3 separate regions of the Homo sapiens genome follow, and regions 1 and 3 are each reported to be linked to region 2. Evidence: microRNA targets listed by miRTarBase, many of them from high-throughput screens and not tested one by one. Region 2 holds a microRNA gene; each other region holds the end of a gene's coding sequence.
Evidence for each region. The annotated mature microRNA hsa-miR-3124-3p reads ACUUUCCUCACUCCCGUGAAGU and lies in region 2 at 2,204-2,225, shown strand. An mRNA with a match to its seed (bases 2 to 7 or 8) in the 3' UTR can be bound and repressed. Matches are read on the target gene's strand: a 7mer-m8 pairs with bases 2 to 8, a 7mer-A1 pairs with bases 2 to 7 and ends in A, and an 8mer does both.

Region 1 (3,077 bases), not on the chromosome of region 2:
GACAGGAAGCAGAGGCTGGGAAAAGCTACATCTTTTATTCATGCTTTTTCACAGGAGCTGAAGTGGGAATCAGTACATCGAGAATCCACGCCCGGGGACCAGTAGGACTTGAGGGACTGCTTACTACTAAGTGGCTGCTGCGAGGGAAGGACCACGTGGTCTCAGATTTCTCAGAGCATGGAAGTTTAAAATATCTTCATGAGAACCTCCCTATTCCTCAGAGAAACACCAACTGAAAAGAGCCAGGAAAACCCGGGAATTTTCCAAAAGGTCTTCACGTTAAACTTGTCTTATCTCAGGAGAGAGCCCGCTCTTGTCTCCCAGTTCCTGGTAGGGTCTGCCTGTTGGAAAGTGTACCTGGATGCTTCTGGGCTCCGTTTGGCAATAGCAGTCTTGGCTGATGTGCACAGTCTGGCTCCCAGCTCACCCTTTTTTTTTAAAGTAAGAAAATAGTTGCTACCGATAGGGACTTTGCCAAGTCCAATTATCTTCTAGGATTGAAAGGTGCATTTTCCCCATAAAAAAGGCGAGGAAAACCCATGGCTGCTTTGTGTCACCTCAGTGACTTACAGTCCCCCTTGGCATTTAGTTGGTACTAGAGCCAGTCATCCTTAACAAATCTTTTCACATTTTATTTCTTTCACATGTAGTCATCTTCAAAAAGGAAAGATTTGGAATTTTAGAAAAGGGGCAACTCTTCTTTTTAGCATTCTCATCAGAAAGTCACAAAAATCGATGGAATCATTTCCACTGGGAAGATTGACCTTTTGTATTTATTTGTGGGGTAAATTAATAAGCATTCCAGATGCTTGCAGCTTCCTGCATCCAGGAGATGCTGTGTTCCCCGTGATGCAGCTGGAACCCAAGCTGCAGCAGGAGATGCAAGTTTCAGGATGTTCCCCACTGAGCTGGAGGAATATCTACAGCAGTGATGCTTGAAATTTTTGTATGAATTATTTTGTCGTCCTACCCTTTTCCTCCAAAACAAAAATTAGAGGATTATTTTAATACTTTGGATTCTTCCCCCTTTTTTGAGAAATAAAGTTTTTTATGAAAAGCCTGTGCGTGATTGAAGTTTTCTCCCTTAATTGTTGTTACCCCCTTCCTTTTCCTCTCTTGTGACCCTCGTGCCCTGCTTGTGGGCATGGTCTCTTCTCTGGAAGCTGTCTGGGGAGACAAGACATCTGCCTCAACAGTGTTTGTTGGTGGAAGCAACATAGGCAGTCCCCACAGAGGGACTCAGACGGAGAGACAGGAAAGGAAAACAGGAGATTAAGCCCCAAGAGCTTGAAGACTAAAAGTGCAGTGAAGGTCTGAAGTTGGTGGGGTCCAACCTGAGCGAGCTCCCGCGGTGGCACATAGCCCCAGCTGACATCCTTAGTTCACTGCATCCCCCCAGCTCCTCCCTGCCAGTCCTGTTGCCTCAGGATCACTTGACAGCTCGGACCCTCCCCACTCTCCCTCCATCTCTAGCTCCTGTCCTTAGGGCCCCTGGTGCCTGACAGTCTGCAGTTGAAAGATTTCATGGGGGCCTCCTAAAGAAATAAGCACTCGCTTACGATGCTGCTGCTTTTCCTCTGAGGATGTTTTACCAGCACAAGAATGATGGTGTCATGTGGAACATGTTCCCAGGCTGGCTGCACAGCCTGCCTCTCCTCCAGACCCTTACATGGTCTGGCAAGTCACCCTGACTGCCCTGCCCTCTGGATGAGGAGTTCTGGCATAGCTTGCCTGAAAAGGCTATAAACAGTCCTGCCTGAAACTGTCACAAATACCACAATGAGCTCCCAACCAGACAACAAATGCCCAGGAATCTTAAATAGAAGGCAGCCCAAGAGAGCTGGGGCCCTTGGGGAAGACCACTGAGAAGGCAGGCCTGCATCTGGGCCCTGAGAAAGACCACTATCATCATCAGACAGAAACCCCAAGCTTCACTCATTAAACTGGCCTGCATCAATCATTGCTATAAATGCACACATTGAGTTGAACTGCATGCCACAGAAACTTCAAAGAATTGGGGCTTGAACTTGATCATTCCTGTTTCTCTCATGTAAAAAGAGCTCTGGAGGTAGGCAGCTTCAAGGCTGACTTAATGCCTCCATGAAGGCCATCAGGCACTGGGGCTGCTTTTGATTTATTCTCTTCTGTCCTAGGGTAAGGCTCTTGTCCACATGGTAGTGGCATTCCAACCATCAGGACTGCATTCCAGCCAGCAGGAAGAAGGAAAAACCATAGGCAGAGGAGTGTCTGCCAGCTGCCCCTTCTAAGTGACATTCCAGGAAGACCCCCCTGCCCAGTGCTTGACCAAAACTAGCTCATGGCCTACCCTCTCTAAAAGGGATCTGGGAGGTGTAGCTTTTTTATTTGGGCACATTGCAGCTCCAAGAAAGTAAGGGTTCTATTGGTAAGGGAGGAGGAAAATCGGATAGGGGAAGAAGATTATCCTAATTGATTCATGGAGCTGAGAGCAGGATTCATTCACCTAAACAGTAGGGCTGCTGGGGAATAAAAGAGGGCTGGGATGGCGGCCAGAGAGGTAGCCACAATGTCCCACTGCACTGCCTGACAGAGGAAATGGGAGGGAGAGGTGAGCAGACACTAAAGTTTCATGGTGCTATTTGCAGCCCAGTGTAATGGAGGGAGCACTGAACTGGGACTCCAGAATTTTTTTTCCAGCTCTGTCACTGACTGGCATTGTGACCTTGGGTAACTACTTAAACATTTTTGCCTCAGTTTCCACACTCATGAAATGGGAGCTTGGATAAGCTTTCTAGTTAGATGGAGGTGTGGGAAGCTCTTTATCACTAAATTGCAAATTAGCTGAACAAGGTGTTTTTTATATCTGACATCCACAGCTGGCCAAGTCTTTGGTAGGCATTGAAAGCAAAACCCAACATCACTGACCCGCTCTTCACACACACACACACACACACCCCTCTGCTATTTGCTGTATATGTGGGCCTCAGACTACTTCAAACTGTGGTTCAAGGATCATTGTAACAGAATGACCACAGGGCCTAGCTAAAACTGTAGATTCCCGCACCCAGACCTGCTGAGCCAAAATTTCTGAGGGTGGG
Region 2 (3,110 bases):
CCTTTATAACACTGGAAAGGTCTCACTGTTTACAAGGGTGAAACACATTATCAGAGCAATGTGGGCCGCACATCCCTGGAAGGTACCGCTGAGAAGGTGAGAAAGGGGAAAAGATTCTCTCACTCAGCCTCAAAACTGTCCCCCAGTATCAAAGTCATCTCCTCTCACACAGCATCCCTAACTAAGGTGGCAGCCCCTCTGCTTATCTGGAAAGAAGTACAACACACCTACCCTCCACTGACCTAAAGTGTGCCTCCTCCATCTACTGCCAAGTGACACTTTGCTCCTTCAGTGAAGCTTTCAGCAATGCCTCCCAAGCACTAAGGCCAGGCCTTTCTCTGCACTCCATCAGCACTTCAGACACACAACTCTTTTGGAACTTGTTACATTACCCTGCAATGATTTGTTGACAAACTTGTTCTCCTTTCCTGCCCCAGCAGACTGGGGACAGAGTAAGTCTAAGCCCTCATTCATCCAACACTCTTCAGGGAGGCTGGAATCTGGGCTCTCCTTCTCTCCCTGCTCTCAGTGCTCTCACCTGTATTCTAGGATCCAGTTCTTCCTCCTCTCTTGGGGACAATTTGGCCTCACTGCTGCTGCTTCCACCTCCTCCAGGCTCTTCTGCGACTGGGCTCCTAGGGACTTCATCCTCTACAACTTCAGGCCGCAGCTCCCCCTGTGGGGTCTCCCGCCCTCCTGGAACCTGTCTGAGCTCAGCCATGCTGACAGGGGGAGGGCAGAGCCCTATGCACAAGAGAGGACTGACATGCTGGGACCAGGGCCCCAGCTTGGGGCTTCCTGGGCTCTAGATGGCCAGGAGAAGAGTTTCTCTTCTCAAAAGGCAGAAAAGGTGGGCACAGGAAGAACCTCACACTAGGTTAGAGGTTGAGATTCAAGTTGTCAGTGGGGTTCCTAGAGCTGAAGCCTTGTCTGTGCAAAAGTTCTTCCCTTCCCGCCACAGGGAGTCCACTGTGACAAACCCGGAGCAACAGCTCCAAGGCAGGGGGCAAAGGGGGCTTGGATCCTGGACCGAGGCCTGCTAGGAGGAGCACCATTCGGGAGGGTGGAGGCAGGCGCCTCCAGGCTGTGGTGGCAGCTGGAGAGAGAAGGCTGGGCCCGAGCTGAGGCTGTAGGATGAGCGTCTCTGGGGAGCTGCAGAGAAACAAAGGCCAAGTATATGGTCATGTCAGCATCAAAACCGCAGCCACCAGCCCCTTCCAACTCTACAGCCTCCCAAAAACTACACTCTCACCACGCCCCCACCCATGTATTCCGACCAGTCCCTACCTCAACTTCTCTCCTTAGCCCTCAAGGACTTTAGATTCTACTCTTCCCCCGTCCCAGCTCCTCTCGACCCAGGCCCTCCTCAACCAGCGCCTTCGAGACTTTCCTCTGCACCCCTAGGCTCTCCTCCATCTCCTGTGGTCTCCCGCTCGTCCCACTCCACCCCAGCCCGGCTTTGCGATTCACCTTGTAACCCCGAGCCCCACCCCACCTTCTCTGTCCAACCCGAGACATCTAAGCCTCCCGTCTCCAATTCCACACTCTTCCGCAATCCCAAGGACCCTACTCCCGTCCATTCTACCCAGCCATGCGCAAAAGCCCCCCGCACAGCCTTACCTCAGTTTACCTTCCCGTCCGCGGAGCTTCTATGCTGCAAACAATCTCCCCCCCTCCCTCCCCGCAACAAGCCGATCCAACCAAAAACGACCAGGCAGACCAGAAGCGGAAATACATCATCGGTGAACAACGCTCTCCCTCCCACGCTCTCTCTCAAGCCGGGCCTCCTCGGGAGGCCTCACACTCCCCCGCCCTGCCTTCAGTTTCCGTACAAAATGGTGCCCCACGTTGCTCAGGCTAGCCGTAGGTTGCCTCCAGACCATACTCCACCAAGGCTGAATGAAAGAAAAACATGAGAATGTGGTGCTGAAGAAAATTAGGGCGCGGGACGGAAATCGAGAGTAACTGGTGAGAAGAGGAATACTAGATATAAAACGGAGATAATAGCCTCAGAGTGAGTAGTGCCATCTTGCTTTACGGAGCTGCGGCGGCGGCTGCCGGAAAGCCACTTCCGGCCTGCTCCACGGAGGCGGGCGCGACGCCGAAAGTGAGCTGGTAAACTTCCGGCAGTGGCTCCGGGGGCAACTCGAGTCCGGACGCTGGCGGGCTTCGCGGGCGAAGGCAAAGTCGATTTCCAAAAGTGACTTTCCTCACTCCCGTGAAGTCGGCGGAACCCTCCACTAACGGCGTCTGAGCGGACGGCTCCGATGTGTAAATCCCACTCCTCGAGGCCTCTGGACCTTGCACCTTGAACGACGTTTTGGTGGGGTCACCAATTGCTCCGTGAATACTAACCAGGAACTTAGTCAACATTAACTCAGTTAATTCACTCGTGCACCCAGGGTCAGATGCCCTCGATGAGCAGGAGTTTGTTACATGGCATTGTGTATCGTTACCTAGGTCCCTGAGCGAGCGCCTGCTTGTCACCTCTAGGTGTCGCTTGGTGAGGGGAGGGCCTAGGCCTAAGGGGAAGGGCTTCATTCAGGGTTGGATGTTTTGTTTTTACAAAAGGCGTAACTTCCTCAGAGTCAACTCAAAACTTTGCCCTGCAGATGGAAAAGGCAAATGGGCTGAATTCCCCTCCTTTTTGGATCCTGTCAAAGACAACCCAGCTAGACATTGAAGCAGTGAAAAAGACTTTTTTCAGTAACTACTTACAGAAAGGAAAAGAACTGACCTCTGTTCCGATTTGTACAGAAGTGACTGGGCATTTCAAAGGGAGAATGAAGGAAGGAAGGTGATCAGGGCTCAATAGTGTTGGAGAAGTGAAAAATTACAGATTTGATTGGCATAGATGCGATTCGGCCAGATGTGTCTGCTAGCTAGCAGCTATAGAAGTTAGAGTGCTTTTTTATGTATTTATTTATTTTGAGACGGAGTTTAACTCTTGTTGCCCAGGCTGGAGTGCAATGGCGCGATCTTGGCTCACTGCAACCTCCGCCCCACCCCCACCCCCGAGTACAAGAGATTCTCCTGCCTCAGCCTCCCGAGTAGCTGGGATTACAGGTGCATGCCAACACATCTGGCTAATTTTTCTATTTTTAGTAGAG
Region 3 (3,077 bases), not on the chromosome of region 2:
TTAGCTTCCAGTCTCATGGATACCTTGTCAAGGTTTTGGTCCACAATTGACTATATTTTCTTTTTGGCAGACACCTTCTTTTTTTTCTCTTTCCTTCTTTCTTTTCTTTGAGACAGGTATCACTATGTTGCTCAGGCTGGCCTCAAACTCCTAATATCAAGCAGTCCTCCCGCCTCAGCCTCCCGAGTAGCTGGGAGTACAGGCACATGCCAACACACCTGACGTAACAGTCACTTTAACCAAACATGACTTGGTGTACAAAAATGCAAGCAGGCAAAAGAAATCATTTAGGAGGTGAAATACATAAATTAATGATTTAAAGTTTCATTTATTAATTATAGGATTATTTGCAAATTTCTTTAAATAATTTCCCCCTCACATAGTTTAATGAGAACTTGATCTCCTCATGACTTTTCAGGAGCACTCTGTTACATTTCAGCGGAAAGGCCCTCTTTGTCGAAGATCATGGCCCCCTTTGACACAGATCATGGCCCCAGCAGCAGAAAAGTGGACTCATCCTGGGTAGAGGGGCAAAATCCTATATCTAGGCAAAGAGATACTCTGTGCTTTCCTTGGCAACATGTTGAAACAAAGCTAATATAAAAATACCGTCAAAAGTGTTATTTTGATTTAATTTCAGATGAGAGAGTAAGTGATGTTAATTGACAACTGTCATCAAAACTTTGAAATGTACTATCACCTGGTAATTTGGGGGTAAGCTTGTGTCCACATAAGCTAGTGAGAAAAAAAAAAATGCACATTCAGGAAAACCATTTTGATCTCTTTTCTTATGTGTTTCCCTGGACTATGCTGGGTCCGTGGGGAAGTTTACCAAATACAGTTTAAATAAAGGGCCTAGAAGGAAATCTTACTGGTTCAAATAAATGCATTGTGTTACAAGTGTGAATGCTGTATAGAATTTAATGACATAATGACCTTTCTATTTCGGGAGAATGAGATTGTAAGAGTTTCATCCAGCTTTCTTCCAATCACCAGACCAAGGAGGCTCATTTCAACCTTTCACAAGTAAAACACCTTATTTCTGAGTGGCAGGAAATTTAAATTCCTCTGTTGTGTATATACTGGAAATCCCTAATCTCAAATCCATCAGTTTCCTACGTATGGTTTAGAAGGTTTTAAAACCAATGTACTGTCAAGAACTTTGGGGAAGGAAAATGTCCCAGAGATAATCAAATAACATTATTTGTATTCCAGGTTCAACTATAGGATTTATCTTTGACTCCAAGTATCATCAGGGTGGCATATGGTGATGGATTCTGCCAGATCCGTGCTATTTCACTGACTTGTTGGGTACCAGGCCTCCAAGCCTAAGACTAAGCTTGATCACCCTTGATCAAATACATCTCATTTTTCAAAACCAACTTTAAAATCTGTTCTGAGGGAAGCATATGCTACTCATTCATCTGAGATCTATTATGAGAAACTTTTTTCTTTTTGAGAAGGCTAATGTGCCATAGCAAAGAAGACAAATTACAAATTCATTAGTTCATTAGCGTCTGGTATTACATTTCTATTGTTTACTCTAAATGTTTTGTTTAAACTAAGCTCTCTGTTAAATGAGTCATTAAATGGTAATGTTTGGATTTTCATAATTATAATTGAATTTTACAGGTCTTGAATCAGCAGGAGTTCAGGCTGAGTGAAACGTTTTAATGCATGACATGTGAAGTGAAGGCTTTAGCTAACTTATTTCAGCTAACTGTTTTTCGTAAGAAAACTACGAGCCCTAACACATAAATTATCCAGTTGTTTCGTCTCACAGATATAATCCACTATTTGCCTTTAGAAGTCACATATGTACAAATGGCTCAGCACAAGTAGCACCTCACACTTCTACAGAGTTGAAAGGACACAGAACTGTTCCACATATCTCTGCTGCATTCCTGTAATCCCCACACCTTAGTGGGCGGGGGGCGGGGGGTGTCTTTTCTCCACAGATTTTTCCCGCAAGTCTCCCAGGTTGGTTTCTGCAGGGGTTATCTTTCTATTCATCAATCTTAAGATTTATTTTGTTCACCTTTGATCAAATGCATCTCATTTTTCAAAACCATCTTTAAAATCTGTTCTGAGGGAAGCATATGCTGCTACTCATTCATCTGAGATCCATTATGAGAAAACTTTTTTTGTTATTGTTGTTTTTGAGAGCGAGTCTTGCTCCGTTGCCCAGGCTGGAGTGCAGTGGCATGATCTTGGGTCACTGCAACCTCCCCCTCCCGGGTTCAAGCGATTCTCGTGCCTCAGCCTCCTGAGTATCTGGGATTACAGGTGCGCACTACCACACCTGGCTCATTTTTGTATTTGTAGTAGAGACGGAGTTTCACCATGTTGGCCAGGCTGGTCTCAAACTCCTGACCTCAGGTGATCTGCCCATCTCAGCCTCCCAAAGTGCTGGGATTACAGGCGTGAGCCACCGTGCCCGGCCCATCAATCTTAAGATTTATTTTGTTCACCCTTGATCAAATCTCATTTTTCAAAACAAACTTTAAAATATGTTCTGAAGGAAGCATATTCTACTTATTCATCTGAGATCCATTATGAGAAAACTTCTTTCTTATAACTGAAGACATTGAGTATAAACAGTGATTTTCAGCCTTTTTTTTTTTTTATTTAGAATTTTTTCTCCAAAAGTCTTATGCAGAACCTGGATTTAAAATAGGCAGAGGTAGGCCGCTCTACCTGACATCCCTGGGGGGTGGCGGCCCACAAGTGACATTCCTCATGGCTTCTTTCAGCTCCCTGCAGCTGTCTCTGAGCCACCTCCCAGGAAGCTAGAATTCATGCTTCACGAGTTATCATCAGGTCAACTCTGGAACATGCAAAAGTCTGTCCACAGGCAGTGATTTCTGGGCAAGTGCTGCCCTGGGAGATGACAGCCAGAGCCACACTAAGGAATGTGGTGGCTTGGACCAGGTGAAGGAACCTGGTAGTTCTCAAGCAGAGTTCTGTCCTCCAGGCCTGGCAGGTGGGGTCCTTGAGGGAAGAGCCCCAGAATGTTCCCCTGAGCAGCCACTCCCGTTTGTTGCAGGCTTTGCTCCCCCAAGACCTTGACCAAGAAG

Region 1: miRTarBase lists ALDH18A1 as a target of hsa-miR-3124-3p. Seed matches in the 3' UTR shown: 8mer at 663-670.
Region 3: the mRNA of TAL2 is a reported target of hsa-miR-3124-3p. The part of its 3' UTR that is shown has no 7-base or 8-base seed match.

What each region holds. Positions count from the first base shown.
Region 1 is chr10:95,603,921-95,606,997 of GRCh38, reverse strand. It overlaps ALDH18A1 (aldehyde dehydrogenase 18 family member A1), which reads left to right. Exons shown (of 18, transcript NM_002860.4): 18 at 55-1,057. The coding sequence ends at 236. Among named protein-coding and RNA genes, the nearest start is that of SORBS1, 44 kb to the right of the region's middle.
Region 2 is chr1:248,824,215-248,827,324 of GRCh38, forward strand. MIR3124 (microRNA 3124) reads left to right here and starts at 2,163; the gene lies at 2,163-2,229. It overlaps SH3BP5L (SH3 binding domain protein 5 like), which reads right to left and starts at 1,701. Exons shown (of 7, transcript NM_030645.3): 1 at 1,621-1,701; 2 at 539-1,152. The coding sequence starts at 721. RefSeq lists enhancers at 1,373-1,432, 1,495-2,046, 1,803-2,062, 2,047-2,597, 2,173-2,222 and 1 more.
Region 3 is chr9:105,662,652-105,665,728 of GRCh38, reverse strand. TAL2 (TAL bHLH transcription factor 2) reads right to left here. Exons shown (of 1, transcript NM_005421.3): 1 at 2,605-3,077. The coding sequence ends at 2,906. Among named protein-coding and RNA genes, the nearest start is that of TAL2, 1.7 kb to the right of the region's middle.